Homo sapiens: one gene and its partner. The protein of the gene in region 2 interacts with the protein of the main gene of each other region in a pairwise test. Each region holds a gene or a part of one and is shown on either strand. Other genes may lie near its edges.

Region 1 (3,654 bases), about 36 Mb from region 2:
GGGATTCTCTGATGTCTAATGAGGTGTGAACATGAAGTAAAGGCTTTGCAACACTCATCACACTTGTGACATTTCTCTCCTGCATGAATTCTCCTATGTTTTGCATAGGATGAAGCTTGACTGAAGACCTTGCCACAGTCATGACATTTGTAAGGTTTCTCTCCAGTATGAGTTCACTGATGAACTGCAAGGTATGAACGATGTCTGAAAAATTTGCCACATTTATTACACTCGGAAGATCTCTCTTCATTATGGATTCTCCAATGATTTGCAATCGTTGTAGCGTTACTGAAGACTTTGTGACAATCATTACATTAGTCAAGTTTCCCTACACCATGAATGGCCTGATGGTAAGTGTTGACTGGTCACTAAAGGCTTTGCCACACTCATTACACTTGTAAGGTTTCTCTCCAGTATGAATTCTCCTATGTCTTTTAAGGCGTGATCTGTGACTGAAAACTTTGTCACATGCTTCACATTTGTAAGGTTTCTCTCCAGTATGAAGTCTATGATGACATGCAAGGCTTGATTGATGAATCAATCAAGTGATTGTGAGCCTTACCACACTCATTACACTTGTAAGGTTTCTCTCCGCTATGAATTCTAGTATGGTTTGCCAGATAAGAATGGCACATGAAAGCCTTGTCACAAACCTTACATTTGTAAGGTTTCTCTCCAGTATGAAGTCTATGATGACGTGAAAGGTGTGACTGTACATTAAAAGTCTTCCCACATTCATTACACTTGTAAGGTTTCTCACCACTATGAAGTCTACGATGGCATGGAAGAGATGACCTGTGACTGAAGGTCTTGTGACACTCATTACACTTGTAAGGTTTCTCTCCAGTATGAATTATCTTGTGTCTCTCAAGGTTTGATTTCTGACTGAAAACTCTGTCACATTCTTCACATTTGTAAGATTTCTCTCCAGTATGAAGTCTATGATGACGTGCAAGGCTTGACTGATGAATAAAAGCCTTACCACAGTCATTACACTTGTAAGGTTTCTCTCCAGTATGAAGTCTATGATGACGTGAAAGGTGTGATTGTTGATTAAAAGCCTTGCCACATTCATTACACTTGTAAGGTTTCTCTCCAGTATGAATTGCCTTATGAATTACAAGGGTTGAATTTTGACCAAACATCTTGCCACACTCATTACACTTGTAAGGTTTTATTCCAGTATGAAGTCTACGATGGCATCTAAGGGATGACTTGTAACTGAAGGACTTTCCACATTCATTACACTTGTAAGGTTTCTCACCAGTGTGACACCTATGATGGCATGTAAGGGATGACTTGTAACTGAAGGACTTTCCACATTCATTACACTTGTAAGGTTTCTCACCAGTGTGACATCTACGATGGCATGTCAGGGATGACTTGTAACTGAAGGACTTTCCACATTCATTACACTTGTAAGGTTTCTCACTAGTGTGACATCTACGATGGCGTGCAAGGTATCGCTTCTCATTAAAGACTTTGCCACATATATCAAATTTATATTGTTTTTCTCCTAAATGGATTATCTGATGTTTCCTTACAAATGAGCTACAATTAAAGGCTTCGCCAGTCTCATTACATTGGAAAGATTTTTCTCTCATGTGTACTTCCTGTTTTTGTGTGAGTAATGATGAATGGAAAAAATTATTCCCATAGTTATTAGGAGTATGTGTTTCAGGCCTACAAGAAATTCTTTGGGATGTTGAAATTGAGGAAGCATCGTTGACAGACTTCTCCACTTGATTAGCAATTTTCTCTTCGGGCTGAAATATGTGGAGTTCAGGAAGATGCAAATGAAAGCTTAATCCAAGCTGATCTTTAATAGGCTTGTTTCCAGCATGCCTTTGATCATGTCGGTCTGTGCTACCCATCAACTCTTTGATTTTTGGCATGGATGCTTCATGGCCATTTCTTTCATCTTTTTGTGACTGAAACTCAAAGTCATGAATATCTTTTTCAATTTCCTGGAAGCAAAAATCTCCAGTGTGATAACTTTCATGTCTTTGCAACATCCCTGTGTGGATCACTTCTGTATTGCCTTGCCCTGTTGACAAGACCTCCTTCATCATGCGTTTGGAAGAGATATCTACAAAATATAAACACCAATACGTTTGCAATTAAGTGCAGATGGTAAATCATACTGAAGTGTGTAAATATGACACAATAAAAAATACTTATTTTAAACTTCCCAAACATGATCTTCAAAGTTTACGAACACAAAAGTAGTAAGATTCTTTAATAAATAACAGACAATTACATGTCCTTCAAATCAAGTCTATAAAAGCTTATTTCCTATATCATGACAAAACACTGACAGGGCACAAACATGTGTAAGCCTAAAGTAAGGAGTATTTTTCCACTGTGACCCTACAGTGTATCACAGTTTGCAAAAAACATATCACTGTCACATCAAGGAAGAGAAAAATATATACTCTTCATATTTAAACCATATTTACTGTGTACAAATAAATGCAAAAAAAAAACACCACACAATATACTATATTGGTAAATAATCCACAACAAGCTCATGTAAGGATAACCAAAAGCAATGGAAATTCTGTATTATCAAACAATTATAGCACTGAGAAGATAAGAAAAGATTACAAAAATTAGCCAGGTGTGCTGGCCCGTGCCTGTAGTCACAGTTACTCAGGAGGCTGAGGCACAAGAATCACTTGAACCGGGGAGGCAGAGGTTGCAGTGAGCCAAGATGTCACCACTGCACTCCACACTGGGCAACAAAGTGAGACTATGCCTCAAACAGAAAAAAAAAAGGAAAAAAAAGAAAAAAAAAGTTAATACAATACTTTTCTCAATAAATGTCATAAAATTACATATATCCACACAGAACAGGCACATAGTGACTTTTGAAACCATTTTTTGTAGTTTTATTTTTTTGAGACAGTCTTGCATTCCAGCTTGAAGTGCCATGGTGCCATCTCAGCTCACTGCAACCTCTGCCTGCTGGGTTGAAGTGATTCTCCTGCCTCAGCCTCTTAAGTACCTGGGATTACAGGCACACACCACTATGACTGGCTAGTTTGTGTGTTTTTGGTAGAGACCGGGTTTCACCATGTTGGCCAGGCTGGTCTCCACCCCCTTTGGCCTCCCAAATTTCTGGGATTGCCGGTGTGAGCCACTGCACCTGGTGGCACTTTTGACATTAACGAGTGGAGTGTGTCAGTTATATTGCATACCACATACTGAAAAGCCATATGCAAAATTATAAAAATTAATTAATAAAATATTGTAACCCATGATAAAACCAGCAAGCAAATAAGTACATTTATACAGCCTGCAGAATTCTAAACAATTCCCTCTTAAGAAAAAAGCCACAACATCTACTTAACCACCAGCACACAATATAAGAACTGAAATACATGTTAAGATCACTACCTTCTGATGTATGAGGTCAAGAAAATACACAGCATTATAAGGAATAAGAACTGACTAACGGCTGGGCACGACGACTCACAACCTGTAATCCCAGCACCTTGGGAGGCTGAGGCAAGTGGAGCACGAGGTCAGGAGTTCGAGAACAGGCTGGCCAACATGGGGAAACTGCATCTCTACTAAGAACACCAAAACATCAGCCGGGTGTGGTGGCGGGTGCCTGTTATCTCAGCTACTTTGGAGGCTGAGGCAAAAGAA
Region 2 (3,654 bases):
CATGGTGAAACCCCATCTTTACTAAAAATACAAAAATTTGGCTGGGCGTGGTGGTTCATGCCTGTAATCCCAGCACTTTGGGAGGCTGAGGCGGGTGGATCACCTGAGGTCAGGAGTTCGAGACCAGTCTGGCCAACATGGTGAAACTCCGTCTCTACTAAAAATACAAAAAATTAGTCAGGCGTTGTGGCAGGCACCTGTAATCAATCTCAGCTACTCAGCAGGCTGAGGCAGGAGAACTGCTTGAACCCGGAAGACGGAGGTTGCAGTGAGCTGAGATCGCGTCACTGCACTCCAGTCTGGGGGACAGAGCAAGACTTTGTCTCACAAAAAAAAAACACACACACAAAAAAAACAAGTATTTATTGAGTGCACACAAGGTGCCAGGCACTAAGATAACTGTTTTTCTTTCATTCAGTCATTCAACAAATATTTACTGAGCCAGGCTCAGATGACAGGTGGTGAGCAAAATAGATACTGTTGGTACCTTTGAGTCTTCTCAGGGACAAAGTCAATAAGAAGTGAACAGGTCAAGGAACAAGAAATTAAGCAGCATTGCCTGGTGCTAGAAGAGAAATAGGATGGTGGGATGGGGGGATGAATGGGGAGAGGCCTACTTTTGACCTAGACTTCAAGGGTAAGAAGGAGCCAGGGGAGCTGGGTGCGGTGGCTCACGTCTGTAATCCCAGCACTTTGGGAGGCCGAGGCGGGCGGATCACCCGAGGTCAAGAGTTCGAGACAAGCCTGGCCAACATGGTGAAACCCCGTTTCTACTAAAAATACAAAAATTAGCCAGGCGTGATGGCACCTGCCTGTAATCCCAGCTACTCGGAAGGCTGAGGCAGAAGAATCACTTGAACCTGGGAGGCGGAGACTGCAGTAAGCCAAGATTGAGCCACTGCACTCTAGCCTGGGCAAAAAGAGCGAAACTCCATCTCAAAAAAATAAAAAATAAAAATCAATAAATAAATAAGGAGCAAGGCGAAAGGTGTTCTAGGCAGAGGGTTCAGCAGAGGCAAAGGCCCAGAGGCCGAAGACTGTGTTTGAGGAACAGCAAGGCCCATGTGGCTGGAATAGAGTTAGCAAATAAATGAGGTGGGGAGGCATTGGAGTGGGGTGGAGGACAGGGCCACATAGGGCCTCAAAACCCCTGGGGAGATATTTGTGATGTGGGTGCCACCCACCCAGTTCCCACTCCCCACCCCATCCCCATGCTTCCCAACCCCAGGGCCACGCACGCACCATAAATTTTAAAAGCATAGTAAGCCTTGAGGTCGCGGGGAGCCATTTCACTCATCACGGAAAACATGTCCAAAAAGTTGTCCAGGGTCATGTGGCCATCCCCATCCTCAGAGAATACCTGGGCAATCCTCTGGCGGAAGGGGTTGTCCTGGGGACAGAAAGGAAGCTGGGAGGCCATCCTCTGACCCCCAAGGTCTCTGGGGTCCATGTGGTCTCACTATCAGCACCCACCTTCTGGGAACCTCCAAGTACCCTCCATCAAGACCCACTCCCTCCCATGGTCCCTGGACAGGACTTTGGACAACTCCACCCTCCACCCCTGTGATCTGAGCAACCTTGCCCCAACTTCCAGCTCTTGGAGCAGCCATGTGACCCAGGCAAGGCCAATCAGAGAGTTCCATTCACCTGGCAATAGTGATTGGCTCTGTGATGGGCATGTGACTCAAGCTAGCCAATCAGAGGCTGACCTGGGATATTTTTCTGAAAAATTGGGAGGGAGGGGACCTGATTACTGCTGCTTGCAAAGCTCACAGAAGCTAAAGCTGAGTGGCTGAGAGGTCCCTTCACAGCCTCAAGAGGTGAGGCTGCCTTAGACTGAAACCTCTTCCTGGGAGGAGCCGAGATATGGGGGGAGATTCCTGAGCACATCATCAGAGGCCCTGGTTCCAGCTGTACCTGACACTGTCCCTGCCTCTGGATTTTTTTGTTGTTGTTCAGGGGCAATCCATTTTGATCCAAACCATTCTGTCCCTCTCAAATAAGGTTTTTGTCACTTGCAATAAAATCAACCCTACTCACAGTCAGTTACTCAACCCACAAGTTCCCCTTGGAGGCACAAACCATGTGTCAAACATCCTGCTGATAAAAACCTGCATTTAGCAGCTCCTGTTACAAGAAGAACTAACGTTCTCTGAGTACTTGACACACAACACACCCTGTACTGAATTTGTTGCCTGTATTATCTCGTTTCATCCTCCCAATTCTGGGTGTTTTTTGTTTGTTGTTTGTTTGTTTGTTTGTTTTTTGAGACAGAGTCTCACTCTGTCGCCCAGGCTGGAGTACTGTGGCTAGATCTCTGCTCACTGCAACCTCCACCTCCTGAGTTCAAGCAATTCTCCTGCCTCAGTCTCCCTAGTAGCTGGGATTACAGGTGTGCACTACCACGCCCAGCTAATTTTTGTATTTTTAGTAGAGACGGGGTTTCACCATGTTGGCCAGGCTGGTCTCGAACTCCTGACCTCAGGTGATCCACCCGCCTCGGCCTCCCAAAGTGCTGGGATTACAGGCTTGAGCCACCACACCAGCCAACTCTGGGTTTTAACCCTGTCTCTGTCACATTGTAGCTGTGTGACCATGAACAAGTGTCTTAACCTCTCTGAGTCTCAGTTTTCTTATCTTTAAAATGGGGATAACTGCAGCACTGACCTCAGAGGAATGCAACGAGAGACATCTCTACTATTTTTTACCCTGTTTGTCCCATGGCCTGGGCATACCTTCAGCTCGGGCATGCTGCCAATGAGCTCGTAGGGCACCTTCACATCGGGGCAGGTGGTATAGTCGAGGGGCACGAGCTGTGGGGCCAGGTCCTGGTAGCGATAGAAGAGCCTGATGTGGGGAGGAAAAAGCTGGGAAAGACTGGGAGCAGGGAGCAGGCAAGACGCTTGTCCCTTCTTTGTTTTTTGAGACAGAGTCTCGGTCTGTCACCCAGGCTGGAGTGCAGTGGCACAATCTCGGCTCACTGTAACCTCTGCCTCCCGGGTTCAAGCAATTCTCCTGCCTCAGCCTCCCAAGTAGCTGGGATTACAGGCACACCCTGCCACGCCCGGCTAATTCTTTTGTATTTTTAGTAGCGACGGGGTTTCATGTTGGTCAGGCTGGTCTCAAACTCCTGACCTCAGATGATCCACCTGACTTAGCCTCCCAAAGTGTTGGGATTACAGGCGTGAGCCACCGCACCTGGCCAAGTCCCTTCTCTTTCACATTCACAGCTGCTCACTGCACACTGAGGTATACTGGGTCCCCAAGAACACTCAGCCCTGGGCCTGGACCTCAAGCATACAGAGCCTGACACAGGCACCCCTAACCTCCCTGGGGGCAGGGTCAAGGTGCAGAGAGGGCCACAGGACAAAGGGAGACTGGACTGGGGGAAGCAAGCTAGCGAGGAGAAGGGGGTTCCTGGAAGAGGGGACATTGGTTCTGGGCTTTGAAGCATGAGTAGGAGCTTCTAAAGCAGATGGAGTTGGGAGAAGGGAGGGTGCTTATGGCCAGATCACAGCAAGCATTCAGAGAATCCTATATAATCCACACATCTCTGGATATTGTCATGTTATCAGCAAGACCCTGCCTCCAAAGATACCTTCACTTTCATACCTTCCCTTCCTCTCCTTATAATGGGAGGAAGAGGCCGGATGC

What was found. Proteins that work in one complex are often made in the same cells at the same time.
Region 1: the proteins of CIB3 (region 2) and ZNF578 interact in binary tests that used the Homo sapiens proteins (3 or more experiments, as listed by UniProt).

What each region holds. Positions count from the first base shown.
Region 1 is NC_000019.10:52,509,007-52,512,660, reverse strand, and holds part of ZNF578 (zinc finger protein 578), read right to left. Parts: intron 2,090-3,654; coding exon 507-2,089; 3' UTR 1-506. UniProt on the Homo sapiens protein: May be involved in transcriptional regulation.
Region 2 is NC_000019.10:16,166,895-16,170,548, forward strand, and holds part of CIB3 (calcium and integrin-binding family member 3), read right to left. Parts: intron 2,848-3,654; coding exon 2,736-2,847; intron 1,391-2,735; coding exon 1,243-1,390; intron 1-1,242. UniProt on the Homo sapiens protein: Acts a an auxiliary subunit of the sensory mechanoelectrical transduction (MET) channel in hair cells. Plays a role in regulating hair cell MET channel localization and function.